2 separate regions of the Homo sapiens genome follow, and region 1 is linked to region 2. Evidence: fine-mapped expression QTL. A gene starts in region 2. The other region holds a variant in brackets. All regions are shown on one strand. Distances are from middle to middle. Region 1 overlaps ARFGEF3 (ARFGEF family member 3). Region 2 holds the start of ARFGEF3 (ARFGEF family member 3).

What was found. PIP is the estimated chance that this variant, and not a neighbour inherited with it, causes the effect.
Region 1: its variant is fine-mapped to the expression of ARFGEF3 in nasal epithelium (TOPMed, PIP above 0.99).

The regions. Positions count from the first base shown.
Region 1 is chr6:138,287,031-138,302,277 of GRCh38, reverse strand. It overlaps ARFGEF3 (ARFGEF family member 3), which reads right to left. Exons shown (of 34, transcript NM_020340.5): 17 at 15,094-15,204; 18 at 12,310-12,460; 19 at 10,225-10,545; 20 at 8,152-8,285; 21 at 5,323-5,468; 22 at 3,493-3,672. Among named protein-coding and RNA genes, the nearest start is that of PBOV1, 76 kb to the right of the region's middle. RefSeq lists an enhancer at 14,831-15,247. The variant C/T (reference allele first, on the strand shown) is at 8,267.
Region 2 is chr6:138,155,499-138,170,745 of GRCh38, reverse strand. It overlaps ARFGEF3 (ARFGEF family member 3), which reads right to left and starts at 8,807. Exons shown (of 34, transcript NM_020340.5): 1 at 8,575-8,807; 2 at 33-84. The coding sequence starts at 8,659. RefSeq lists a silencer at 8,705-8,934 and an enhancer at 8,028-8,998.

The sequences.
Region 1 (15,247 bases), 130 kb before region 2:
AATTTACATTTTTATAGCTCCCATTTCTATATTTAGAGTCCTTATTTTTGAGTCATTGTCATATTTTCCCTTAATTTTTTCGAACATATTTAATAGCTACTTTGAAGGCTCTGGCTCCCAAATACATCTGGGCTTACTCTTAAGTCAGTTTCTAGTCACTGTTTTTTCCTCTGTGTTTCACTGTTTCCTGTTTCTTTGCATCACTCATATTTTTGAGAATTAGACATTTTAGATAATATATTGTAGCAGTGCTGGATTCTAATTTATTTTTGAGGGTTTTTTTCCCCCCAGACTAAGGTGCTTGGAATTCCACAGACTAAGTCTATGGAATCTGTCTCTTCCCATGGCGCTCATGTGTCTGCTCAGTTTTTGTTCTTCATTTTTATTTTTTAGCCTGACTCCCTAGTGTTCATCCTCATGTCTGCATAGCTTAGTAGTCAGCTGATCATGTGGGTGGAAACTATGCTCAAACACCTTGAGTCTTTAAGGTTCCTACCCTCTGGCAATCAATCTGTGTGAGAAGGTTGGCCAGAATATTCAAAGTTCAGCCAGTTTTTATCTCCCTTTTATTTTCTGATGAGATCTTTACAATCTCCCCTGTACATGCCCATGTTTCAGTCATCCAGGGATGTGTGAACAGACTATCTGGTCCCTCTATGAATCTCTGATATCCAGGATCTTATGTTAGATTTCTTGCTAGTACACTACTCACTACAAACTTTAGGCAAGCAAGATTGAGGATTCCCCTGTTCATTTCTCCATGAATTCATCACTTGTAATTGACAAGCCAATGGTCTTCTCCCCACTCTTCTCCATACCAAGTCTGTCCCTGATGGTAGAAAAGCTGATGATTGTCTCAGTCAGCCTCACGCTGGTCAAACTACTATTCTTGCCAATAGAGCTTGGGAGTAAAGGTGATGGCTTCAGTCTTTGTCAAGGAAGTCAGACTCCCACTATTCTTAACCAAAGTTCTAGCAAACACTGTTTTTAAGAATAAATGCTACTCAATTTGTTGTCTGCTTTTGGTCAATTTCCAGACCCCTCAGATGGTTGCTTTGGACAATTTTGTCCTGTCCTGTTTTATGCTTGATTTTTGCGGGGAAGGTTAACCTAACTTCTTCATGTTACCATAGCCAAAGCTGCTTCTGTCCTTAAGCTTCCTAAACACATTTAAGCACTGTTATTTTAAAATCTGTCTCTGATAACTCTGATATCTGGGTTCCTGTGTGTGTTTATTGTTTGTTTTTTAAACTTTTGTTTTCAATGACATGTTATTTCCTAATGAGCCTGGTTATTTTTTATTGAATGCAAACGTTGCACCTGCAAATCAAGAAATAATTTGAAGATTATTAATAGAATGATGTAATCTTCTGTCAGAAAGGCACTAGAAATCTCAGATTACCTTAATCTCATGTCAGGGATTGGGATTATTTGAAGTTGGGTTTATTTTCTCTTATGACTAATCTATTTAAGGTTCACCTTTCTTTCTAAGATGTCCCTTTTGCCTCAAGATCCTGACTCAAGATGCGAGGAAGTTACCAGACTTGGGAGGTCCCAGACTGCAATTTTGCTGAGCTTCCCCGTCTTTTATTATGTTGGTGCAAAAGTAATTGCGGTTTTTGCTGTGATGGCAAAAATCACAATTACTTTTACACCAACCCAATATCTTCCTTTTTTTAAATTAGTAGATTCTATTTTTAGGAAAAACAGCCTCAAATACCAGGAAGACTACTCTGGGTATTCTTTTTCTCCCAGATCTTGGCCTTGTAGTTCTTCACTGCCCTATAGTATGTCAGTGTCTTCGAGTGATTAAAATTTTTTTTATCCAACTTTTTTTAGTTGTTCCCTGTGAGAAAGTTGATCTGAATTACCTAGTTCACTCTTATTGGTATAAAGTCTTAGGTGTTAACCTATCTAGGTTAACTTATCTTAGATGTTAATGATCTAACGTTTAGGTGTTAACTTCTAGGTGTTAACTATCTAGGAGATAACTATAGGTGTTACCTAGGTGTTAACTTATCTTAAGTGTTAACAATCTAGTCTTTAGGTGTTAACTTATAATTTCAATCCTTTATTTCCTTAAACTTACTAGGCTTTGTGATTTAATATTTTGCATGGAAGATACCAATATTTCAATCCAATTCTTTATAGTTCTAGTTGTACTATCTGTTGTTTTATCAGTTCTCTCCGTTGCCTTGTTTTCTTGTGTGTTTTGTGACTTTTTTAAAAATACTGAGAGCTCACGTACCTTGAAACTTTATTTGTGGGATTCTTTTGTAGCCTGAGTTGACATGAGTTTCTCTCGGGGGAGTTTTGTTGCTTCTGTATGGTGCCTGTGTATTTTCTCAGATCCTGAGGTGGTGTAATTTCATATACAGATCACATAAAAGGGCTAGGTTGTAATAATAAATCCTGGAGTGCTCTTTTTAAAAAACTTTCCATTAAGAGCCAATGTTAGAAACAAGCTGATAGTATCCTCAGGAAGTTTGTTTTAATTCAACCTTGGCCTGATTGAACACCAGCTTTGTAAAGTTTGCGTTGAGATTTGTTTTCTGTTTCTGTGCACTCACGTCTGGGATGACCAGAACTTCTGCTCCACTTGCTAGCAAATTCCCTCGCGGGAAAACCAGCCTAAGGGCTCCGCTTACTTCTCTGGCTTCCCATTGGCACTCAGTTTTGGGGCTTCCTTACTTTCTTGCCAGTGTGTCAAGGTATTTAAAAGAAATGTTTAAACCTCTATTCAACGTTTTTGGTGGACTTCAGAGAGAGAGATCCTGTATTTCTAGCCCACCATCGTGTGAAATACGAAGTCTCCAGTTAGTTTCTTTACCTTGCCTTCAGTAGACAGTATGGCAGCAGTTAGGAATATAGGCCAGGTATAAAGAGATAGGCCAGCAGATTGCCTAGGTTCAAAGCCCAGCTCCACCAATCACTGATTATGTATCCTTAGTCAAATTGCTAAACTTTTCTGTTTTTTTTTTAATTGCCTAGTTTCAAATCCCAGCTCCACCAATCACTGATTATGTGTCTAGTCAAATTGCTTAACTTTTCTGTTTTTTTTTTTTTTTTTTTTTTTTTTACAGAGTCTCGCTCTGTCACTCAGGCTGGAGTGCAGTGGCGTGATTGATCTGGGCTCACTGCAACCTCTGCCTCCCTGGTTCAAGCGATTCTCCTGCCTTAGCCTCCTGAGTAGCTGGGGTTACAGGCGTGCAACACCACACCTGGCTAACTTTTGTATTTTTAGTAGAGACGGGGTTTCACCATGTTGGTCAGGCTGGCCTTGAACTCCTGACCTCGTGATCCGCCCACCTTGGCCTCCCAAAGTGCTGGGATTACAGGTGTGAGCCACCACGCCCAGCCCTGCTTAACTTCTCCGTTACAGATTCCACATAGGATTATTGGAAAGAGTAAGTGTGCGAAGCTCATAGAACCGTGCCTGCCACTGCACTCAGTAAGAGCCAGCTATGACGCTGATGACCATGTCACACTGACCTGGTCTTGGACGTCCTCATCACACAATTCCAGCTGCATAATGCGCTCGAAAGGTCGGAAGAGTGCTTCATTGAAGTGAAAATGAGGTGGCTCATTCCAGTCAGTGAGGACTTCTGTCAGTATGTCATGGATGAAGGAAACAGCCTTCTGAGACACATGTCTTTCCTTATGGCAAGCAGCCTGCAAAATTCACGAGAGAGTGGCTCACCATCAGGACAGCAGACAGTGAGAATGGTTTCTGAAGGCTTTCCTACCCCACCTCATTACAAGGAGGTGGAAGCAGCAATTCTGTTAAAATCAAAACATTCTAAGGGATAAGTCTAAACAAACTGCATACTAAATTGCATTTTTAACAATTCAACCAGCTTATCAGGTACAACCTCAATTTCATGTTAATGTTTCTAGAAAAAGGAAAGTTTCCGGTAATTTCTTTTTCTGTAACATGACAGTTTTCTTGAATGGTACAGAACATGCTCACTGTAAAGACACCAGAACCCAGTCTAGGAATGGCTCACAGTTTCATCTGAGCTGTGCCCCACATGTAGGAAGATCAGATGAGTCATTTGTCCCTCAGTGAGGTGAGGGACAAATTGCCACAGTAGCTCTAATTGGTTTACAGACCTCCTGGTATCCATGCTCTTGAGTAATCCTTTCCTGTACTGGCCCTGGGCTTGGATGTGTGAGTTGCTTTGGCCAGTGGAACACAAGCAAACATCATGTAAGAACAGAATTAAAAAGTACTTGTGATTTGGGGTTTGCCCTGTTGTTGCTCTTTGGAACCCTAAGAATGCCACGTGAACAAGCTGGGGCTGGTCTGCTGGAGTCTAGTCTACATGAGAGACCATGAAAAGAGAGACCTATTTGTCTAGCCTTCCCAGTTAAGGTCATCATGAACCATCTGGCCCCAGACTTTGCACCAGCTGACCATAGATACACAATTAAAGCCAGTGAGATCTGCCACCCCTGGCCAACACCAGAACTACCCAGAGAAGCCTACCTCAAATTTCTGACTCATGGAATCATGAGCTAAATAAATGGTTGTTGTTTTAAGCCACTAGATGTTGGGGAGGCCTTATTGTAGAGTAAAAGATAACTGATAGACTTTTTCCCCATGACTACATTGCTATTTTCTACCCATTTTGCTTACTAGAATGTTCTCAGGTTAGTAATTTAAGTTCCAAGAAATATTTTATGATTTATCTCTACCAGATAAAAGCAAAAGGGCTATTAAGAATAGTTATCACTGCAAAGCAGGGCAACAGTTTTCCCTGTCAACTTGGAAGTGGCCAGTCCTCATGTATTGAGATGCTTAGATGTAGAGCTGCCATAAAACTGATCACACGAACTGCTTTCCTTTGGAGAGTGAAAGGGTCTTAGTATTAATTTTGTTGGGAAAACCAAGACATAGGGTTCCCTGACTGAAAGGACACTGTCCTGAGTATATTTAGCTATTAGAAAACAGGGACTGGTAGGAACCAAAGACATTGTTATATTTATGTATAAAAATAAAGCTATTAGGAACCATCCACAGTCTTTCTGTTCCAGGCTCAGGTTGATACCAGATCATAAAAATGAAAACTAGCTGAGCTGTACAATTGCAAAGAAAGAGGGTCAGAGTGAGACTAGGGTAGTACTGCCCTTTGGGGTGATTCTTTAGATGCCATGAGGTATAACCAGAAAACAGTGATGTTTGTGACCAGGTGATAGGCAAGTTCCCACTGCCCAATGGCCACAGTGCTTTGCCCCCATACATGACTGCAGGCCCCCATGCTGGCTCTGCTGGTCACTGACTTAGCAGTTCCAGCCTCTTCCCACCTTCCCAGTGCTCACCTCCACCAGGTGTGGGGCCACAAGGCTCCAGCAGCGCATCACGTGGAGCAGGGGCCGTGCTTTGCTCCGCACAATCCTCAGCATGGCATTCCCCAGGCGGAACAGGTGGAGGGCGCTTTTTCGGTCTTGAGTGGATTTAACTTCTCCTACAGGAAGGCAAGAACATAAATGCCAGAAAGCCAAAACTCAGACATAGTCTGACCTATTCAAGCAAAGAGAGAGGTTGAAAATCTAGGTAGGACCAGTAGGGTAATTCGATATTGGCTAACCAAGGGAGGAGGGAGCCCTGGATTCAAGAAGGATGTGGTGGTTCACTTAGCAAGGCCTGCATCGTCCTCTCACTCACCACTGTAGCCCCGGTACCTGGGACGTGACAGGTATGATCAAAACTTGATGATAAGAGGGAATGAGGTAGCGGTTCAGTAGGAGGGCCGAGAAGTCCGACCGTCTGGATTCGAATCCTGGCACCATTTAGTAGTTGTGTTATACTGGGCCAAAGATTTTCCTCTTTAATGATCTCATCTGTAAACCTGGGGATAATACTGCCCACTCCTAAAATTGCTTTAAAGATTAAACGTGATAATACGCATAAAGTGCTCAGCATGGGCCCAGCACATAGTAACTGACCAACATTTTTAGCTATTATTATTACTCTTGTTACTGTCACCTTTCACTGTCATCATCTACTTTGCCAATCCTTAATAAACCTCTGCAGCCTTTGCCAAGCAGGCCTGGTCCCCCTGCTGCTCAGTAACATGCTGTCTGGCCTTCTCTGTCTTGTTTTAGTACCATCCTTGCCTACCCTGATCTTGGGCTACTTCTTTGCCAAGAGGGCGGGGCTCTCTTGGTGCCCTAATCTTGAACTAGGGTGAGAAACTATGGGGGGCGGGGTTTGCCACCTTCTTGGCAAAGAAGGTGACAACCTTCATCTTCCCCGCTCTCTCCCTGCTCATGTCCTATTGCCTCTCCTCTGCTTCCTACTGGGGATGTGACCCAAGTCTAAACACAAAATTCATTTCTGTTTCATATATACCTTTACACACAGCCTGAAGGCAATTTTTGTACCCCTTGGGGACCCTCAATAAACTGTGTTGCATGCCTGCATTTCCAGTGTGACCTATCACATGAGGTCAGGTGTGGAACTTTCCACTTGTGGCATCATGCCAGTGCTTAAAAAGTTTTGGATTTTGGATTTTTGGATTAGGGATACTCAACCTGTAATAATCATGGATGTTTACCCTGCATCAGACACTGTGTTGGTTCTGTAAGTCTTTAATAACTTTAATTTTTAAAGCAATTATATTTTCTTTCTTTCTTTTTTTTTTTTTGAGGGAGTCTCACTCTGTCGCCCAGGCTGGAGTGCAGTGGTGCAATCTCAGCTCACTGCAACCTCCACCTCCCGGGTTCAAGCAATTCTCCTGTCTCAGCCTCCCGAGTAGCTGGGGCTACAGGCACATGCCATGACACCCGGCTAATTTTTTTTTTTTTTTGCATTTTTAGTAGAGACAGGGTTTCACCATATTGGTCAGGCTTGTCTCGAACTCCTGACCTCAGGTGATCTGCCCGCCTCGGCCTCCTAAAGTGCTGGGATTATAGGCATGAGCTGCCACACCTGGCCTATATTTTCTTTTAAGAAGAAAATATAATTATTGCTATTTTACAGAGTAGAAAATTGAATGTCTGAAAGGTGATATGACTTGCCTCAGATGCTGTGGCTGGTGAGTGTTGGAGGCTGCATTTTATATTCCTACCTGATTGATTCCGAAGTAAGTCTCCCTCTTTCTAGATTTACCGACCCTTCCTGGCCCCTGCTCATTGTGTTCTTTGTAAGCTCAGAGTCTACTGTTTTCTCCAATGCGAAAGACTTTGAAGGTTACCCCCAGGCTCAGAGATTCTCTGAAAGTCTTATGGGCCTGGGAGGTTGGCTTTATATAGCTCAGGTTTTAAAGTCTATTAAAAACTAGTGGGGAAACAACTGTGGTTCTCAAATCTAAATCTGCAGCAAGGGTGAAAAAATCAAATATACTACACTTAGAACTTTAGATTCCTAAGGATAGAAGGGACCTCAGAGGTTATGCAGTCCAACATGTCACTAAGGTGCATCCCCAGCACATGGCTCCCGGTCTCTGCCTGAACTCATCTGGGACAAGGTGCTCACTGTTTCAGGACAACCACTTGTGCTCTTGATGAACAATTCCATCTATGAGCAACCTGCCAATGCTTTGGGACCCTTGGACAATTCAGAACAACTCTACTTTGTCTTCCACAAGACTGGCCTTCAAGAGGGCCTTATTTCTTCACCTGGCCTCATTGGAGACAACAGGGATACTGACCCATCATTAATGGGATATGCCTCTGAGATCAGTTTTGCAAGAGTGGTAGGCAGTTTCCTCTTTCACCACCCCTTTTGGAATTAGTGGTTGCTTCTGCATATCACAAACCACCTCTGTCCCACTGGCTGGACAGAGGTGTGTGGTGTGGTTTGTGATACGCAGAAAAGCTCCACCCTCATGTGAAGGAAGCTATCTGCACCCTAAGGAGCCACACAATTTCTACCACAAGCACAAAACTTAGCAGAACAACCTAGTCCAGCTCCAGTGGGAGTTCTTATAGATGTGGTAGCAGCAACGTTTCCATTCACAAAGAGTTACACCACCCCTCACACAGGATGCCTCAAAATCTGGAGACAAATCTATACTTGGGCTTAGCTTGTGTGAGTGTAAGCAATGGGAATGTGGAGTCAAATCTTCAGGCACGCTGCTGGTGATAGAGGCCTGGGCTGTTTCCTGCTAACTTCCTGGCATATGGTTTATTCAGGGAAAGAATTACCTGGCATTGCCAGAGAGTAATCAACTGTATCTGTAACAGAATGGAAAAGCTGAGACTGCGATGCTTTCTTCAGCTGGTAAAGAAAACCTCCCAAGGCCATGAGGTTCAACTTATC[C/T]GTAGCATCTTCAAAGAGCCTGGATGCAAACAGAAAGAGATGTGTTCTTTGGAAACAATTCAGCAAGGTCTTTATGGCAGAATGATTATGGTAATTTTGTTGATGTGATTAATGGAAATGCTGTGTAAACACTGTAGACAAATGTATGGTATTATTCTATCTATTCTAACTGTGTACAAGTCTGCTCTAACTGTGAGATTTTAATTCAAAGGCACAAAGAATATATTTAAAAATATCTTTGTGCCCTCATGGTCTAGCTCCGCTATGGTAGGCACTCATAAAATGCTTGGCAAGAAGCTGAAAGATGGCAAGGCGTTGTTCCCAGAAACTGAGTAACTGGGAATGGAATCTTCAGAATTAGCTTCAATTTCATAAATGATGTCAAAAAACCCCAGTAAATTAATGAATAAGGTTTTGTTTGTCTATAATTTATGAGTATAATGCTGGAAAAGATACAAAAACAGCTAAGAGTAGATCCTGTAAGCCCCCCTCCAGGGCGGGGACTGGCCTCATACACACCCAAAGGCCTGGATGTGATGGGAACTCAAGTATCTATTTGGAAGAAAGAATGTTCCCCAATATGATGGGTCTTACAGGTTCTTTTTCTTTCCCACTCAGCTGGGCACAGACCTTGCCAGCAGAAGGATTTAGGAAGGCGGGGAGCACAGTAGCAGAATTTAGGGGAGGATTTGAAGGTCACGGGAATGAAGAATGGTAAAGATCAAATATCTGTTTTATGAGGCCACAACGAGCAATGTGCCAGGTGAGCCTTCCATGGCTCTTGGGTCACCCTGCTATCTGCCCTCCAAGCCTAGTGACACCGCAGGGCAAACAGTGCTGTGGGGGCACCATGAGCTGCTTCAGGGAGAGGGTCTCTAATAGAAATGGAATCATGAGTCCTTCTTGAAAGAGGAAAATGAGACACGCAAGTTTTAAGATGGGAATTAGCGGATTAAACATTTATAAATTATTGAAACAAATATATTTTTCTTGCTATTTTGTAACTTCCAATTTTGATACCATTTGGTTTCTGGGTCCTATTGACCATTTCTCCTCCCTCCTTCCTAGTAAGAAAACAGTGATGAATATTATATTCCACCTGACACCTGTATATTACTTTCCAGATTCTAAAACATTTTCACAGCCAACTTGGATAAGCAGCAAAAAGCAATTATGGTAGTGGGTTAGTAGTTGGAGAAATTGAGCCTCAGTGCAGCTATGTCTACAGACATGACCCGGCAGCTGGGGAGTGCAAAGTCAGGACAGGAACTCAGGTCAATCTGAGTCCTGGCCCAGGGAGTGCTCCTCCCACTCCTGTCCCCTTCCTGACGGTCCTCCCTGTGCCCGTGCCGGGGGTCTGGGACACAGTGACCAAACACTGAAGAGGTAAGTGAGGTGGAACTGTGTGTGATTGGTGACCAAAAGCACTTTCAACCTCAGGAAGTACCACCAAACAGTTGAGGCGATTGGTGATTTTCCCTCTTCACCCTCGCATGGTTGTTGGGCATCAATAAGTAACACATGCATGTGGGATTTTTGAAAACAGCCATAATCATAATAGAGGATTTTTACCATTTTCCAAGCTCCGCTCCAGGTGCATCAAGTTACTAATTAATTTACCCTCACAACTACACGGTGACAGAATTACTTTTAAAAAATGACCCTATTTTACCAATGGAGAAGCCAGGCAGGGCCCAGGGAGGTGAGGTTGCCTGAGATCCCAGAGTAAGCGCAGCGCTTTGACCCCAGGTGGCCTACCTCAGACCCTCCAGTGTTAGTAGAAAACGTTTCATTCCAAGTATGGATGTAATGGTAGAGAGAACTAAGCTTGAAAAAGATGGAAGAGATTTAAGTGATTGGCTAACAAATGGGTCGTCCCTGGCATGACTGAAACCAGATGGATGTGGGTGTCGCCTGGTAAGCAGGCTCCCGGGGCGTGGGAGGCCGGCGCCGCGCACCTGTCGGCTTGCGTGGAGAGGGTGAGCACCACCTTGGCCGCGCTGCTCCCGCTCATGAGGCTCCCGCCGCGGAAGTCGGAGGCCCGACCCCGGCTGCCTTCCCGGACGAGGTCCTGGATGGACAGGGGCTGGACGACAGGGGCCGTGCTCAGGGAGCGCCCCTGCTCCGGGCTGTGCTCGGGGGGCGAGCCCTCACACTCGGGGTCCCCAAGGAGGCCAGCGCTTCCAGTGGCCTTCTGGGGCTGGCTGATGGTCAGAGGGGGCTGCGAGGCACCATCGCTGAAGTGGTTGTGCTCCAGGGTGCCCACGTATTCACACACCCTAGAAAGAGCACAGACAAGCAGCTGTTAGGCGCTGCAGCTCACCCCGGCAGCTCCATAAACCCCACAGTGCCAGACAAAGGAAATGCAGCCAGCTCTGCAAGCTCCCCAGCTTTCCTCTTTCCTGTGATGACAGTCAGTCCTTCCCTCCTGTGTTCTCATGTCACACAGCATTATTATTAGTAGTATTTGAGTTGGACCAGACAGCCTTGAAATGGGTAAAGGATTATTTGGGTTCTCCCACCCCAGGCTGGGAGAAAGACGGGCAATGAAGCCCAGTTCATCCAGTCCCCCTGCCTCATCCGGCTTACTGGCTTATCTGCCCTCCTGCTGTTTGAGCCATTTTTCCCCAGGCACCCTCTTTCCCTCCATATAGTGCTCTGATTAGGAGTTGGGAAGCGTTTCCCTACGATGGGATCCCAGAATGGCTATACCTATGACGGAGAGGCCAACTAGCCACAGTGGGTTCTGCCCAGCCACGTCCTGCCTGGTCCCGACGGCGCCACATAACTCAAGTCTGGGTGGGGTGGGTGGCGGCCGGGTGGGAGGGCAGTCACCGAATTATGGCAGACACAGAGAAGGGTCACCACATGTGCTACAACTGCCAACTCCTAAATGGTTTGTTCCCAACAGAACCTGGGACGAAGATGGTTCGCAAGGTCCCTCATCTCGGAGTAAGTCTGTTTACTGGTAAAGAGCATCATGGATAATCCACTCTGATGTTCTAGAATCAAGGAATTTTTCAATCCCTTACCCGCTGCTTGTGTACCAGGAGAGCCTTTTTATTTTCTTTTTTCTTTTCTTTTCTTGTTAGAGCAATAAAGAGCAGCAGGTCAGCAGCCTTCATAATAGAACCATTTTGCTCAACAAACACTCATGGCTATATTTGCTTTGAAGACGTGAAACTGAACCCAGCTCTGGCTGGTGCCCTGGGCCATTGGCCATTGCCCTGGCCACTCTTGCCCCATGCCTGCTCTGCCTAGACCTGGGTTTGGAGTGAGTGTGAGGCATGTGCTGCAGAGAAGGAGAAGGAACAGTGTGGCCAGCCCCCGCCCTGTTCCATGGGCAGTGCTCCTTCCACGGTACTGGGTCTGTCCTGATGCAATGCTTGGGGAGACGTGCTTTCAGTCTTAGTTGTAAGAGGACTTGGACTCTGGAGCTATTGCTGGTTTTCATCTTACAGGCACTGTGCACTATATAACTCACTGGGAGTTTCTTTTCACTTTGATGCTACAATGCTTAGAGCTAAATTTTTGGCCTGTCTTTGGCAGAGGTGTACGATTTTTTGTTTTGTTTTGTTTTGTTTCAGTCTAGCTAAATTAAAAGTAGGTATCTTGTATTTTATGTATGCAAATAAGCTATCTGAAATCCTTCTTTAAGTAAAGAGGACATTGATAAACATATAGCAATGTAATATTGAGGAGACATGACCAGTTTTAGATTTGCACAGTATTCACTTAGTCATCTCAATCAATTATTTAATTGGTTTTTCTTCCTTCCTTCTCTCATAAAAATGTCAATAGAAAAGTCACAATTCCTCAGACCCAGTTCTGTCCCCTGTTCTTCAAAACATACATTCAGTTGGGCCCTTATTCCCTCTTCTCTTTTCACGTCTCATTTGAAGTTTAATCAAACTCTGTGAATTGTTATAATTGATTTACATGCTGGCAGGCTCTTAAGGCCACCCCTCTCCACCTGCCACAGCCCACTCCAGGTTTCCCAAGGCAGGGTTAGTGCCATCTGGGGGTGGGAGCCCGTCATGCACCTGAACACGTGTGGCCAGCAGTCCGGGTTGTGGCTTCCCATCTCCAGGCCTACGCTGAGGATGGCCTCCATGCACAAGACGTGGGCAGTGTGCAGCCACACCCCCTGCACCTTCCCAATCTGCTCCAGTTTCTGCTCCACTTTTAGTTTCACTGTGCCAGAAAGACATTTATTAAAATAACAGGTTGAGTAAGGGAGACAGAAAGAATGAAAATGAAAGAATGTGTGTCATGCAAGGGCAAAAGGGAAAGGACAGACTTCAGTGGCAGCAAGCACCTCCACAGTAGGTCCTTGCGGACCATCATGCAAACCACCCAGCCAGCAGGTCCCACGTGCTGGTGGCCCCAGCTCTCCAGCTCCAGAAGTGGGATGGATCCTGAGCTGGCAGGTGCCATTCCTTCCAGGCCCTTTCATGGGCTCTGGGTCAGGCACAGCAGTGTGGATGGGTTTCATGAGCCAATTCCAGCTAAAACCATCTGGGCCCAGACCTTTCACCCTTCCCAAAAATTGGTCAAATGGAAGAATTCCTGGCTTTCTGCAAGTTTTCTCTGAGATTATTGTAATGTTAGGCTCTCATTATGATCATCATCTCTAAAACAACTTATTTACGTATATTTTGAGCACCAGAATGACTGCTCTATCACTGAAAATGACCAATTTCATTTCATCCCTTGAGTTTGTATTTGTGAGCTCCAAATAATACTTTAAAAAATTGTAGCCTGGGTGTGGTGGCTCACATCTGTAATCCCAGCACATTGGGAGGCCAAGGCAGGTGGATCACCAGAGGTTGGGAGTTCGAGACCAGCCTGAACAACATGGAGAAACTCTGTCTCTACTGAAAATACAAAATTAGCCGGGCATGGTGGCACATGCCTGTAATCCCAGCTACTCAGGAGGCTGGGGCAGGAGAATAGCTTGAACCTGGGAGGCGGAGATTGCAGTAAGCCGAGATGGTGCCATTGCTCTCCAGCCTGGGCAACAAGAGTGAAACTCGGTCTCAAAAGAAAAAAAAAATTGTAGATGACTAATGAGAAAGAATGCAGAAGGTGACTTCAGATGTCAGTAATGCAAAATGCTAAGGCAAGGCCAAACCACAGTGTCCTCCTTGAACAAAGGTTTCAAGTCATTGCATGTGGTAGGATAACTAAGTGATGGTCCAGAACCCAGAAATATAGCAAGCCAACCTCAAAGGAATCCAAACCATCTCCTAATGTAAGGAGCAAAGTGATTTTTAGCAAAACATCATTTGTCTCATAAATGTGATACTAATTTTATTTATTTATTTGAGATGGTGTCTCACTCTGTTACCCAGGCTGGAGTGCAGTGGCTTCATCTTGGTTCACTGCAACCTCTCCCAGGTTCAAGCAATTGTCCTGCCTCAGCCTCTGAAGTAGCTGGGATTACAGGCACCCACCACCACGCCCAGCTAATTTTTGTATTTTTTAGTAGAGACGGGGTTTCTTTCACCATGTTGGCCAGGCTGGTCTCAAACTCCTGACCTCAAATGATCCGCCCACCTTAGCCTCCCAAAGTGCTGGGATTACAAGTGTAAGCCACTGCGCCTGGCTGTTTTATCTATTTTTTTGAGATAGGGTCTCACTCTGTCACCCAGGCTAGAGTGCAATGGAATGATTATTGCTCACTGCAGCCTGAACCTCCCCAGGCTCAGGTGATCCTCCCACCTCAGCCTCCCGAGTAGCTGGGACTACAGGCACATGCCACCATGCCTGGCTAATTTCTGTATTTTTAGTAGAGACAGGGTTTTGCTATGTTGCCCAGGCTGGTCTTGAACTCCTGGGCTCAAGTGATCCGCTTTCCTCGACCTCTCAAAGTACTGGGATTACAGGCGTAAGCCACTGTGCCCGGCCTTAATCTTATTTTTTATTTGTTTTTAATCTGAATATCGTGGTCTTGGTTTTGTGGTTTTTTTTTTAAAGAACTGTGAATGTAAGGATTTTTATGTAGTTCATGGTTGTAAAATACTTAAGTAAAATTGTGAGACTCCTTTTTCAGTTAACGCTGGGGATCTGTGAGAGCGATTTTGTTTTCAAATGGGTCTCTAAATTTTATTCAAGTCTGAGAAACACGGACCTAAATTGTGTTTCTCAGCTAAAAATGTACAGCTGACTCAGTGACTTGTTACTGTACATATCTGATAGTAGTTACACAATTTGGACCAAGCTGGCATTTTTCCTTTTGTTTGCTGCCTGCCTTGTATCTTCTGTTGCTACCAGGATGGTCATTCTTTTCCCTTAGATCCAGATAATCATCAGCTTCACCGACTCACTGATTTCATCAAGTTAAAAATCAGCCATTTCTCGAGTTCACAAAGCTCAGATTTTTCTCTGATAAGAGCCTCTTCTTCCTGAGCCTCCCCTCATGAATTTTCTTCGTCTGCTTAATTTCCCCTTTAGAAAACTGGCCAATCTGCCTTCCCCACTATAACCCGAAGGGTCTTCAAGTGTGCACTTGTGTGAAGTGCCAAAGCCAGTGACTAGATGACAGGTGTGAACAGTTCAGCCAGGTGGGTCCCCCTGGGCCTGCTGCACTTTCCTTGCCACCAGGGGTCAGTATGTCTCTCATTCTCCAGAGAGATCTTCTGTAGGTCACCTACATGGAAGAGACCCAAGCCTGTGGCTCAATGGGATCTCGTGATCAGTGGTGTATACATACCGGGCATCACACACAGAACAGGCACGAGTGTTGGCTGGCGTGTGTAGGCCTGTGCAGGTGTGTGCATACTGCACCCAAGGCACCAGGTGGGTTCTGGCCCTCCAGTTGTTACCTTGTGTGATGGCATCACTGGGTTCTTGGGCCTCCCTCTCTTCTTTTTCTTCTTGGACACAGGAGGCAGCTGCCATCTGGGCAAGGGCTGAGGCGCAGTTAGCAGCAACGCCTTCAGAGGAGACACACAATGACTTCTTGACTGAGTATATCCT
Region 2 (15,247 bases):
TTCTGTGATATTATACAATGTCCATCTCCTACCTCAGTACATGTGGAGGGATCTTGACAATGGTATCCAGACCACCTAGAGTTTCTGCAAAAGAAAAATTACAAAGTTAAAATAAATATTTAAACACTGAGAATATACATTGTACATGAATTTCTCTGTTAGTTTCTCTTTTCAGGAATTCCTCTAATTATAAACTAGTCAATTCTCAACTATCTGCATGCAAGTCCTTCATATTTTAAAATCCTTTTCCCTTGAGAGCCCCAGAGATTTCCCTGGACCTTGCAAACTAGGAGGGGAAAGTTAAAAGTTAGGGCACATTTCCCTAAACAGATAAAGAACGAATAGTTAAATTCCTAGTCTGAACCACTGAATCTAGTTACAACTAAGATACAATATTCTTGTAATAAAAATAAAGAAAAGCTGTTTCCTTGAAAATACTGTTTCAATATCCTTACACAATAATTCATACTTGTGAAAGACTTTCAAGTTCACAAAGCACTTACACAACATCTTATTATTCTCATACACATTTGTGACACAGTAGATTAAACTTTTTTTAAAAAATTACAGTATAGTTAGGATATTGATTGGAAGGCTCACATCCAAATCTTGTTAATCCAACCTGGATGTTCAATACTTTGCCATTGTTTGTGGATTTTTCACACTATTGCTGCCTCCAATTTTAGAGATAATGAAAAGCTCACCAGTCTCTTCCCCAAAAAACTGTACTACTTCAATCCTTCCAACTTGTCTCCAGTCTTGCAGCTGAAATTGTGTTGACCCCTTTCTTCACTCCTTGGAGTCAACAAGCCCTGTCTATCTGAACTATTTTCATTGGGGAAGGAGAAATGTCTCTTCCCACCTTGCTCAGAGATCAGAGAGAATAACAAATGTGAAATATATACATATATCAGAGACTCAAGGCTAAGAACAGGCCTGATAGGATCTGGGCTTGATATGGCCAGTGGGGCAAAAGAGTGGATTTCAGAAAGACAATTAATCAGCAAAACAGAAAGATGAGTTCAGCAGGGTTCTTGGTTCTGTGAAGACAAGGCCAATGGAGGAAGATGAAGGACTGAAGTCAATGCTTAAGATGAGACAGGATGACAAGAAAGGGAAGCCCTGAGATGCAGGTACAGGAAGCAGCTCAAAGGCCACACAGGCCAGTGCAGCCCACCAGTTAGCACAGCAGGGACTGGCACCCAGGATGAGCCGATGCTGCTCCCCAAGGAAAGGCAGTGACAGTGAACAACCAGATCAGCATGGTTTTCCCGCAGGACAGAGGGATATATAGTCAACCAAGGCTGGGTAACAGTGCCCAGCTCTATAAGGCTAAGAGCAAGCTAGAAGAAAAGGAAAAGAGAAAAGGCTGTCACACAGCAGCCACCATGAAACTACAGCTCTAAGTGCAGTGAGACTCCCAGGCACATGGGATCAGTGTGGAACCCAAGGCGAAGAGCATCCAAAGGTCAAGGAGAAAATGGCCTGCAGCTTTGCTGTAAGCACCCAGGACAGAATGGTAGCTGGGGAGAGGGCACCATGGAAGCATCAAGAAGGAAAGCAAAGAGAACCAGGTTCCACTCCCAGCTCCACTCCAGCTTGTGACACTGTGGGATGGGGGCAGGTCACTTATCCTCTGTAAGTTTCAGTTCCCTCATCTTTAGAAAGAAGACAATGACACCTTCCTCCCGGGATGCTTGTGAGGAGCTGATAGGATCATGATCATAAAGGGCCTGACACAGTCCTTAGACGCCAGTGCCAATTCCTGTCTCCCTTCTTTGATCTCTCACTAAACACTGAACCAGGTCCTGGGCTAGGGACCCAGTGGTGAGAACAGACACGATCCATGAATTCATGGAGTGCACATTCTCATTTCAAAGCATGATAAACGCCAGGAAGGAAAATACAGGGAATTAGGCAAAAGTGGAACAGGAGGTCCTACTGTGGACTGTGAGGTCAGGGCTTCCTGCTGGGGGTAATGAGACCACAAATGATTTATTTAAAGTAGATAAGGAGAGGTCACTCCGAGTGGAGGGAATAATAAGTTTGAAATGCTTGGAGAATCTCAACATCTTCCCTGACTCTGTCCTGCCACTTTGGTCCAAGCTGTCACCTTCTCTCACTTGGATGACTGTACCAGCCTCTGTTCTAGGCTTTTAGCTTTTGGGCTTGCCCCTGAAGCTGCAGTCTCTGCTTAACACAGTATCCTGAGAGACCCTGTCAAGACCCAGATGAGAGCATTTCCTCCACCCCAAATGACTCCCCATCTCATCCTTAGAGAGCCCAACAAGGACTTTCATGATCTGGTCCTCACTTCCTACTTCTCTCCCGTCGCTCCAGCCCCCTGGCTCCTTGCTCTTTCCCAAAGCCATCAGATGTTTTCCCAACTAGGAGCCTCCCTTTTAGTAAGGTTTTCCGTGAATACCCTATTTAAATGGCAACTCCCTCTTTATTCCAAGTACCTCCTATCTTCTTCACTATTTTATGTTTTCCCTTTCTTAGCTCTTATCACTCTCTTTGCTGTCATGTGTATTTTATTTATTTATCTTGATTACTGGCTGTCATCTCTCCAAGAATCTGTAAACTCTTGGATCTTTTTGCATGTTTTGCTCACCATGTTATCCCTAACACTTGGAACAGTACCTGGCACATAGTAGGTACTCACTAAATATTTGCTGAATTAATGAAGTAAGAGGGAGCACAGTGTAGCTGAGTAACTGAAAGAAGATCAGTGTGGCTGAAATTCAGAGAGCAAGGACCCCTCTCTCTCATGAGGGTCTCAGAGGGGGATGACCCTCTGTCTCATGAGGGTGGCATAGCACAAGGCTGTGGGGCAGGTAGGAGCCAGGCCATGTACGGCTGGACAGAACACACCAAGGACTTTTGTTTTTATCCTAATGGGATGCTATTCAGTGTTTTAACATGGCATGTCATGAAAAGATTGGGGTTTCCAAGGTGACACTACTTGGGAAAAAGAACTAGAGCAGACAAGGAAGGAGCAGTTAAGAGGGTGTTGCAGAAGTTCAGATAAAAAGAGAAGGCAGCTTATTCTGGAGAGCTGGCAACAGAGGTAGAAAGAAGTGAACAGGCTTGACATATATTTAGGAGGTAAAAATGAGCAGAGCTTGGGTGACGGACTAGGTAAGATGGCAAATTACAGAAATGTATCAAGGATGACTCTAGATTTCAGGTCAATGCAACTGGACAGGTGATGACATCAACTGATCATTTAGAAACACCAGAGGTGAGTGAGGTTGGGCAGTGAGGTAGAGGTGGGGAAGAACACACAGTCACTTTGAGCCTTGTTGAGCTGAGTGCCTGCAAGCCATTCAGGTGGAGATGTTCAGCAGGTAGCTAAGTTGCGGGGTGTGCGTTTCAGAGCACTGGTGTCGACTAGTGATATAAACACGGGCATCACATTCTCAGAAATGGAGCTGAAGCTGTGGGTATGTGTGTGTTCAACTCCAGAAGAGCTGGGAGTAAGAGATGAGGGCTCAAAGCTAACCCTTGAGAAACTCAAATATTTACAGCTGGGGACAGAATCTGGCACTAGCAAAGGAGACAGAATGGCTCAAGAACCAAGATGGAGCTGGTAGGGTGTGATCATAGAAGTCAAGGTAAAGCAGGTGCCCAGTTGTGTCCAGTGTCACCAGGAGGACCTCTGAGATGGGAATGAGAATGGTCTGCCAGCCGAATGGCTGTATGTTACTGTTCTTCAGTAACTGTGAGTTGGTGGGATGATGGAGGTGAAAGGCAGATGACAAAAAGATGAAGACAGAGTAGAAGGTGAGAACACAGATACAATTTCTACACTTTTTAAGAAGTTTGGCTGTGAAGTAATCACCTGTGGCTGGAAGAAAAAGCAGATGGGTAGATAGAGAGAAGGGTGCTGGTTGGATAGATGTTCCCTCTTCCCCTACTTGGCCTTCGTACCTCTAGTTTCTTTCCCCGCTCCTCCATTTTCCACATTCATTCTGTATAAGGCCCCTGATAGATATAAAATACTAAAAGTAGGGCTTGGTTGCTTCCAGCTCTCCTGTTCTGCAATTCTATTTCATCCCACCACAGCCTAGCTTGCAAGCCCCCAGGACTGCCAGTTTCTGAAGTTCTTTCTGCCTTTCCCCAAGCCAACCCTTCATCCAATTCATTCCTTTCTACTCCCTGGCCACGCCATTCCTCACTAACAAAAACAACCAACCAGATAACACTAAATAAAGAGAAGATACATACATATGCCTTATTAGTTATTCTGCAGCCATTAACACTGATTTTCAGAGAAGTGTCATGACAAAGTAGACAGAGTAGAAGAAGATGCTAAAGTTAAAAAACACATGACAATATGCCATATGCGGTATGACCTTTTGCAAAGGGAAAGACTCCAAAATGTCAACAGTGTTATCTCCGGATAGGGAGACTGAAGATTATTTTAATTTTTTCTTTATGTTGTTCCATTATTTGCAACATTCTAAAGTGAACATATATAACTCTTATAAATAGAAAAAGATGAATATTATTTAAAACTCAAACAAGTAGTTAAAGTATTGATTTACTTATTGAACATCTGCCTTCCACTATAGGTGCAGAAGCAACCAAAGAAGCATAAACGGCAGTCCCTGTGCTAAAGAGCTCACTACTCTGCTGACATGTATTGTTTTGATTGACGAGTATCCATTCCCCTGGCTTTTGAAGAAGCATCTTAATTTTACTTCCAGGAAGCCATTTTTCCCCAGCTCTGGATTTCAGTGGAACTTGTAGCCTAGGCCTAAACCAGTTATTCTACTTCATTCTTTGACTAGAGGACTGGTTCAAGGATACACTCATGAACCATCAGGACAAAGAGAACAAGGGAAACCAAGGATCAGGCAGGAGTGACTGGAGAAGTCCAGCTTTCTTGATATGGTCTAAATATGGTGATGATCACCTATCTCAAAATGATCTGAGTGAGGAATGATGCCTCTCTCCTTTGAGGGTCTCAGAGTCGGATGACCCTCTCTCCTATGGGGGTCTCAGTCTCAGTCTCTCATGAGTGTCTCAGTGGGGAGTGACCCTCTCTCTCCTGAGGGTCTAAGTAAGGGATGACCCCTCTCCCATGAGGGTCTCAGAGGAAAATGACCCCTCTCTCCCATGAGGGTCTCAGTGGGGAATGACTCCTCCCTCCCATAAGGGTCTCAGTCTCAGTGAGGGATGACCCCTCTCTCTCATGAGGGTCTCAGAGGGAGATGCCCCTCTCCCCCATGTGGGTCTCAGAGGGGGATGACCCCCTCTCTCCCATGAGGGTCTCAGTGGGGAATGACCCTCTCTCCCATGAGCGTCTAAGTGAGGATGACCCCTCTCTCCCATGATGGTCTAAGTAGGGGATGACCCCTTGCTCCTATGAGGGTCTCAGAGGGGGATGATCCCTGTCTCTCACAAGGGTCTCAGTGTCGGATGCCCCTCTCTCTTATGAGGGTCTAAATCAAGGATGATCTCTCTCCCATGAGGGTCTCAGAGGGGGATATCCCCTCTCTCCCATGAGGGTCTAAGTGGGGGATGACCCCTGTCTCGCACAATGGTCTCAGAGGGGGATGCCCTCTCTCTCTCATGAGGGTCTCAGACGGGGATGCCCCCTCTCTCTCATGAGGGTCTCAGAGGGGGATGACCTCTCTCTCCTAGGAGGGTCTCAGTGGGGGATGCTTCCTCTCTCCCATGAGGGTCTAAGTGAGGATGACCCCTCTCTCCCATGATGGTCTAAGTAGGGGATGGCCCCTTGCTCCTATGAGGGTCTAAGTGGGGGATGACCCCTCTCTCATGAGGGTCTACGTGAGAGGTAACCCCCCTTTCCCATGATGACCTAAGTAGCGGTTGACCTCCCCATCACATGATGGTCTAAGTGGGGGATGAGACGTGTTTTCCTGAGATGGTCTAAGTTTATTGTTGCCTCTTTTCATGAGATGGTCTAAATGTGTTGATTCATGAGCCCAAAACTGTGGAGACCCACGCAGAGCATGTCAGTCAACCCACAAAGAGCAGGACAAGATCCCTGAAACAGTGTCTAATTCCTAAATCACAGCTATTCTTGTAAGGGGTATTTTAGTTAAAGGAGTAAATAAATCCCGTTTTGTATAGCTCAGCTTAAACTAGCTTTTTTGTCTCTTGCACCCAACATATTTGTCAATTACACTGCCCGTAAGAGCCTACCTGTGCACACAATCAACTATTATCCAAAATAGTAGGTACTCTAAGAGAGTCATCAAGGCAAGGATCTGAACCCAGACAAACAACTTATCCTATTGAGGAGCTCAGGGAATGTTTCCTAAACAAGATGGACCTTGCCAAGTCTGAAAAGGGAATTCCCTACAGAAGGACTAGCAAGAGCAAAGGCAAAGAGAGAAGTGTGCCACACAGCATGTTCAACAAAGTGCTGCAGCTGACTGCCACTAGATTGTTGAATCTTGGTTGGGGAGTGACAAGAACAGAGGCTGGGGCTAGATTCTGAAGAGCATTCTGAGGAATTTACACATTAATCTAGAAATAAATTGGGGGGTTGAAGAGTGACAGGTGTTTTGTAATCTAAACAGTGACGGGCAGTGGAAATGGACTGGAGTGGGAAAGGCAACAGGAAAACCTATCCCTATAGGCCTTTGTTCATGTCTCCAGCATGCCCTTCTAACAAATTCCTTACAGGGAACATTTTATTCATCCATATATCCCATTGCTCATTACCAGGGAGGTCTTAATAAATGTTTCCTAAATAAAGAAGCGACGGAAAGAAGGAACCCATAGCTTCCCCATTCTTCAAGTGAAATCTACTTCAAAAGCCCCACCAGCTCACACCAATTCTCCCCCAATCCATGGACAACACATTTATCCTCCCTTCTTTGACTTGTTTTCCTGGTTTGCCCAATCCAACTGCACAATGAATGCCCTGCACTATTATTTAACTATTTCATGCACTTCTGTCTTGTCTTGCTAATGACAGAACAATCACTGGGAAAGGAAGTACATCCACTCAGGCTGGTTTCTTTCAGATTTGACTCGAAAAATTTACCTGCCTCAATGCTCAGCCTCCCCAGTGGCTTTAAAGGACCTAAACTCAGCAACGTTGTGGTTTCACTTAATAAGATGTTGATGTCAGTATTTAAACTTATTAAAATACTAGATTAATCTCCTCCTCCCTGTTTATCTAAATCTGCTTAATTTGCAGCAAAATAATAACGAATACTAGGAATGGCATGTTTAAAGCACAATTGGGCCCTGCTTTATCATGTTACCCAGCCATCTGTGACCCTTCATTAGAGGCATTTTGGAATCTAGCTTCGAATCACGCTGCTGAATGACAATGGCAACGGCAAAAATAGTACTGTGGCTTTAAGAGCCTTGCTGTTCTCTCAGATTTCTGGTCCATTTTTCTTTAACAGTAAGCTAGAATGGTCAAGTGCTGGTTCTACCTACAAGACAAACTTCCTAGACAATATTCTAGACAATTTTGTGATGATAGGCACAGGTTTAAAAAAAGATGCTGCTATAATTACCTGTACACACACCCAAACATATGTGAATTAAGACCATCTACATATTAAGAGTCACCTAAACCACTCTCAAAATTTTACATTTAGTGGAAAACCTGCTAAAGGCTCTTCTCTATCTCAGGCTGCATCAAAGCACACACAGTGTCATGACAGACAGTGATGGTTCTTGGTTGCAAGGGAAAGGGAGTCAATTTCATTTTTCAATTGAGTGGCAACTGAGGCATCACATCAGGCTCCAGCAAGGCAGAGAGAGGAGCCCATAGAGCTAGCTGCGCTGGCTTCTTCTTGGCCTTTCCTTTCTAAAAAGCATCACCATCACCCAAAGTATGCTTCTGATCTATTTGCATTACCATCCTGACCATTTTGATTGCCCAAACCCCGCCTAACTGAAATGTCTTTCCGTTTTTTTCCGCTGCTGAGTTCTGCAACCTGAGTCTGATGAGAAACACAAATTTGCTCCCTGGAACTTACTTCAACGCTAGCACAGCTCACAGCCCTAAAATCCCACCTGTCTGAAGGGCAGACCACAACAGAATTGCAGAGGTAACATGATCCCCGCCCGTATGTTATTTTTCATGTGCAATAACCAGGAAAGCTAACACTAAGCAAGCTGACCTCTATCAGGAAAATCAAATTAAACAAGCCTTTCCTTCCTGGTTCCACTCGCCAAGGATTCGACATCGGGGTTGTTGGTTTAACTTCCCTTTTCCCCAGAGGCGCTTCGCTGTCAGGCCCCAGGATTCGCACCGGCTCCGGGTCCTGCCTAACTCGGCGATGGGGAAGCATCGTCCCCAGCGCCGGGACCAGGAGAAGGGGGCCGCCAGGCAGGGAGGACAGCGGTTCCCGAGGAAGGTTTCGGAGAGTGAAAGAGACCGGAGGGGAGGCGGCTGATGTCCACGCCCGAGCCAAGACTCTCAAATCCCACATCAATTTCCCGAGGCGACTCTCGCAATCGCCAGAACGGCACCCATGACCGACGCTCCGCGAAAGCCCCACGCGCGGAGGCGCGGGTTCAGCCCCGGCCGCGCGGCCCTCCCGCCGCGGCGAGCAGGTGCCGGACGCTTACCCAGGGCCCAGGTGCAGCTCTCCTTGATGGCTTTGTACTTGCTCCCGGACGCCTCCTTCTGCAGCTTCCTCAGGATTTCTTCCATCTTGACCTTCCAGGCGCCGGGCCGCCGCCCACAGGGAGAGAAGCGCGGGCGAGCCGGGCCGGGGAAGCCGCCGCTGCCTGGCCCTGGGCGCCTAGGCGGCCGCCGCGCGCGCCCCCATGCCGCCCCGGCGCGGATGCTGATGAATCACGCCCGCTCCATGCCGCGGGCCACGTCAGCCCCGCGCCCCGCCCGCCGCCCCGCCCCGCCCGCCTGGGTCAGGTGCGCTCCGCTCGGCGGCGGCTGCGGGCTGGGGCCGGAGAGTGAGGCTGGAGGCCGCTGACCTGACCGCCGAGGCAGGCCCCGCGGGCGCCGCGCTTAGCGGAAAGGTGGGGACGGATGTCCGGAGCTGGCTCGCCAGCCGCCGGGAGGGAGCGCCTGGTCCGCGGCGGGCGGCGGGAGGCAGGCGGGGAGGGGCCTCGCCGCGGTCTTCGCACCCCCTGAGCCGACGGTGGCCGCGGGCGGAGTCGGAGCGGCCCAGCCCGGACACCGGGACCCCCAGCGTGGTGCAGGCGCCGCGCCCGCTGCATCCCGTCGTCTGCTAACCGGAAAATTCTTGCGTTCAGTCACTAACAGCTTTTTTGGGCCACTCCCTGTGCCAGGCTCGGGCGATGCAGCGTTGCACACACTGTGCCCCTGCCTGCAGGGAAACTCCAGTCAAGCTTTCAACACGCGGCGGGCGGTGGGCTGCGGTGGGGCTGGGGTAGAGCTTGATATGCCCAAGGAAACCAGGCCCAGAGAGGCTGGGTTACTTCCCAGACCAACAAGAGTTAGACTCCAAACACGTCCTGAATCCAAAGCCCCTTCTAAAAACCCCTATCTCCTCCCCTTCCCATCCTCTCTTGCGCTGAATTGCTGCCCTGTGAAAAATGTGGTGCACAAGGGCCGCCGCAGCAGAGGGCTTCTCATTGGGGTGAAAAGGGGGAGCCCCAGGAGACTCACGCGGGCGGTGGGGAAGGCAGTGTGACAGGGCACCCCGTGTTTCCTTTTTCTTTGAAAATGTTCCTGTGGTGGAAGTGAGGATGATGGACTGCAGAGGGGCAGACTGGCAGCTGGGAGAACAAAGGTTCTGCAGGAATCTAGAAACCAATTAGGCCAAGGGTGGGTAGAAGGGGAATAAAGGAAAGTATGTCAAGAGATATTGAAGGGTAGAAACAATAGGATTTAATGACACAATAGGGGAGAGACGGTGTATATGGGATGGCTTCCAGGTTACTTGTTTAGGAAATTGGGAGGATGGTGGCCCCATTCTTTAAAGAAGAGAAGATAAAAAGGGTTTGGATTAGGGGGGATATATGAGTTCAGTTTTGAACATGTTCAGATTGAAATGATAATGAGATACTTGTAGATTTTTTTTATGGACAGGAACTCAGGATAGAGCTCTGGGAGGGATGCCAGTATTTGAAGGGTGGTAAATATAGGAGTTGTTGATGCCTCGAGTTTGACAAAGGTTGCACAAGAGAGGGAGTGACGGCCCCCCTAATTCTCAAATCATGGGTACAGGAGCAAGGGCCCAGGGAGGAGGCTGAGAGGAGCAGTCCGAAATCCGAGGTGTAGGGGGTCAGCCAGGGGAGGGACTGCCATTGGAGGGTGTCCAACACATGGGGATGTCAGACTACTCCTTCGGCGCTCTTGGTACTGAGGAGGCAAAACCTACAAAGTCCCAGCCCCCAAGGATGCTTCTACCGCTACCCTCACGCCCAGTGAAGCCATCATTTAAAGAAAGGTTTAAAAAAAAAAAAGTAAAAACGCCGCAGCAGATAATGTACTTGGGTTAAAGAAAATTGTTAACTATTTGGAAAAATATATAGATCACAACTTTATATCGTGTAGCAAAATAAATTACAAATGTATTAAAAATTAAATTTAAGAATTAAATGATGAAAAGTTTAGAAGAAAGCATAAGTGAATATACTTATCTTAATGCATTAAGATTATTTCTAACAAACTAAGGCAGAAACTGAAGGAAAAAAGGTCAATAGATTTGACTATTTGAATATTTAAGACCTTTATGCCAAAAGTTTCATACAAAATTAAAAAGCAAATGATACTCTGAGGGATGGATTGAAGGAAGAAAAGATGATACCTCTAAATCTTAATTATATGTGGATTTATATTTTTGAATCTATTTTAAAGTATTTACTAGTTTTACAATTAAAAACAATTTCGTTTAAGCTGCAAACTAGGAAAATGTTTATATTAATGTCAGACATATAAAGTTTGAATAGCTTTGTTAAAAAAAAAAAGCTTTAACAAAGAATTAAAAAACAAATGCTCCTTCTTTTTTAAAAAAGCCAATATATATAAAGTCAGTTTACAGAGGAGAGAATACATATGACCCCATAAACTTATAAAAAATGTTCAAGTGCCTAATAAAGAGAACAAACTTTTAAATAAGATGCTATTTTCTATTAATCAAATTGACTGAGAGATTTTTTAAATGTTATTGAAGGAGCTGAACAACAAGGTCCTCTCATGTCTTGGGTGCTGGTCAGAGTGTAACTTGGTACTACATTCCTGGAGGGAGGGAGCCTGGATGTGTATGTGGCATAGGTATAGCTTTGACCTAACAATTCCACTTCTGGGAATTCATCCTAAGAAAGTGATTATGGAAATGGATAAGGATCTTTCTACAAGCATTTCAGTGTGTCTTTCAATTCTAAAAAAAGAGAAAACTAAATATGCAACAAGGATATGGATAGATAACCCATGATATATTCATAAAGCATCATATTATATAGCCTTTGAGAATAATGTGGGGGACTAGGCATGTTGGCTCATGCCTGTAATCCCAGCACTTTCGGAGGCTGAGGCAGGCAGATTGGTTCAGCCGAGGAGTTTGAGAGCAGCCTGGGCAACATGGCAAGACCTCATCTCTACTAAAAAAAAAAATTGTTTTTAATTTAAAAAGAATAATGTGGGAGAGAAATATTGAATAATATGAAAAGTGGTGTCGGGGGCAGTGGCTCACACCTGTAATCCCAGCACTTTGAGATGCCAAGGCAGGTGGATCGCCTGAGGTCAGGAGTTGGAGACCAGCCTGGCCAACATGGTGAGAACCCCCCTGCCTCTACTAAAAATACAAAAATTAGCCGGGTGTGGTGGCACATGCCTGTAATCCCAGCTACTCAAGAGGCTGAGGCACAAGAAGTGCTTGAACCCTGAGGCAGAGGTTGCAGTGAGCTGAGATCTCGCCACTGCGCTCCAGCCTGGGCGACAGAGCAAGACACTGTCTCAAAAAAAAAAAAAAAAAAAAAAAAAAAAAAAAAAAGACAGAGAAAGAAAAAAAAAAAGAAAAGTGGCTTATACTATATACTTAAGTAAGCAAATTGTAAAATGCTATGTACTTTTGTATACTACATGATTCCAATTTTATTTAAATATTTGATGTAGATGTATATATAAGTTCAAAAATACATGCATATATGTACATACATATCTATCAAAAGTACATACAAAATATTAAGTGATTATCTTTGATGGGCTTATAGGTGAGTTTATTTTTCATTAAATATTTTTACTTTTATAATCAGAAGTGTTATTCTAAAAAAAAAAGTGGCACAAAAATGAAATAAAAGTAGTATCCAGGCAACAAGGTCAACATCCAGAGAAAGGACAAAGATAAACACAGAAAATGATGTAATGAATGTGAGAGAGTTAGGATCCCGTGGAAGCCAGACCCGGGAGAAATGATGACTGCAGCCTGGTTGCAGTGGATTAAGAGCTGGTGAAATCACACGGATAAACAACCCAGTGGATGGCTATGAAGGAAAGTAAACACCTTTCTACTTTTTTTCTATAACTCACAGTAGAAAATATGCTTTACATTATCATCCAGTGTTTACATACATGTATAGATATGTTAAAAAACTGAAACAACAGTTTTAGGTATAAAACAGTACATACTGTTAACTAGAATAGTTACTACTAAGCATGATTTCATTCACTGCAGCAGGCATACTTGCCTGTTCCTAAATTCATTCTGGGTTGCGGGCATGAGGACAATCACAGTGGTTTGCTCTGTGATGCCTATTTCTTTCCAATGTTTTTAGTTTTGTTGCTTAAAAATTCTGGCTCACACAAATAAGTTGCTGTGAATGCTATTAATAACAACAGTGAACTCTGTTTAGCAATGGAAAGTCTTCTTTAATCTTAATCTAAAATGGCTATAAACTTATAATCATTCTTCAATGTATTAAAGTATTAGAGATTAGCTTTCTTCTTTGAGTATCAACTTTAATATGGATTCAGGATTTTGGAAAACAGATCTTTTATCAATTTTTTCCTCAATATTTCAAATTTCTCTTTTTGAAATTATTAAAGTTTATAACAGAGACGTAATATAACTAATATCATTTTTCTATTCAAAATGTCTTCATTAATTTTCTCTTTATGTGTTACAAAATTGTGCACACATAGTAACCACAGTGATTACTTAAAATGTATTGGTTAGTGTTGGATATATTAAACATCTTGAAATATATTGTTACTTTTTCCCTGTAGATCCAAATTCAGTTAGTTTAAAATGTCAAAAAAATTAGTCCTATATGCAGATTCTTCTGGTGAAATATCATCTTCAAAATGCCAAATGAGATTGCTTTTCAAATAGGAAAATATGAATCCTGTTCCTGAGTTCATATAATTTAATGAGTACTTTCCTCGTAACAATCAATAACTTCAGTACGATGCAACATGTACATGTTATTTGATGGAAAGGCTAAGTTGTTTTAACAAAGACCCAACAATACAGTGGTTTACAAAGCATAGACACTTACTTCTCTCTTCAATTAAACCCTGAGTCAGTGGTTGAGGTTGGTGCAGCAGGTCCCAGGAGATTAAGTGACCATATACCTTAAATGTTACTGTTTCCTCATCCCATAGGGGGTTGTTCTCATTTGTGTGTCTCAAAGATATGTACCAGGCACATTGTGTTCTAGCCCATAGGAAGAGGAAAAGAGAGTAGAGGAGTCCATGCCTCAGAGGCAGAAGTTACACAAATCTCATATATTGCATTGGTGAAGACAGAGTTGCAGAGATATACCTGAGTAATCACAGCTCTCTTCCTATGGCATAGGGAGGGGAATCATTAGCCACAGATCCAATTTCTGAACAAAACATATCAAAAATTGAAGGTTCCCTTAATAAAATTAAACAACTATCGTTACTTTTGTTTTCAAGTCCAAAAGATTTAGTGCAATTGTTAGGATGCAAAATCTTTGTAATGTATAAAACACAGATTTTAAATAATGTACAGAGTAGCTTCTAACAATATTTTAAATTATCTTTCCATGTCTCCTGGTCGTATTTACTTCTGAATCACTCACAATTCCGTTACAATTTTCCAGTTGAACTTATGTTTCTCAAGTAGTTTTGTGTTAGGTTAAATGGAAACAACACAATAAATCCTTTATAAAAATCATATTTTCATACATATTTGGCATAAACTAAAGTCTAAGTAATGTGAAATATTAGTGTTCTCATTAAGTGGAATTATACAACCTGTGTCTGCCTGTATGTGCCTAATAAGTATAAATTCTATTCTGTATATTCTTTAGAACTATAATATGACTTAGAAGTATAATTTTAAATTTCTCTGCTGATTTATCAAGAATCATATTCACTATAACCATGTATGCTGAGAACAACTTTTTTAGGAGCTGTTTAATTTTTTTCCTTTTGCTGCATACATGTGACTAATTATGATAGTAATGCTTTTTCATTAAAACCAATGTGAAATCATGTTGACAAATTTACATCTTTTTTTCTTTGAAAATATTTGAAGGCCTTATGAACAAATTTGGCTTGCTATATTTCAAGTGATTTTTTTGGAAGATCTTAAGCTTTTATTTACAAGAATGTCATTACAAATAATACATTTTCAGTGAGTTTTGAGTAATCGACAAGCTATACTTTATCATTATTAAAATGATTTGCACTTCTTTGGCTTATAGTTCAAATAATAGAATTTATTAATTTAAAAAGACATTTTTCTTAATGTTGTCACTATGTACATGTCCAAATCTGGTAGTTCTGCCAGAACATGCCTCTGTGTTTTTCACACGACTGTTTTTATTTCTTCTAATAATAAAATAAACTGTGTTAAGGATAGTTGGTATAACTTTGATTAAAATGTACAATTATCACAAGGTTGAAAAATGCCTGACAGTTATGCCTAATTCAAAAAGCACACTGAAATCTTCTAACTCATAGCCAAACCTTGGTGGAAAGTCTTCCTGCCTTTGCCAAGACTAGATAAAGTTCTTCTAAACCTCACTTTATAATTAGCTATAAATTACATTGACATAAAATGAAACTATAAAACATGAACTCTCCTGATACAATTATGATCAATTCCAAAAAATCAGCTGAGACACCAGTGAGCAGAAGAGTGACTGGCTGGCAGTTCCCAGCCAATGCATATATTCATTACCTCTCATTCTCCAGCTGTCACTCAACTCAGTTGTCTGCAGGATTTGTGGCAATGTGGACACCTCCTGCTAGGAATATACGTGTTGCATTCTGATATTGTAGGTTCCATACTAATTCATTTCTTAATATATTTTTATGAAACAGACTCATTAATTTCACAAC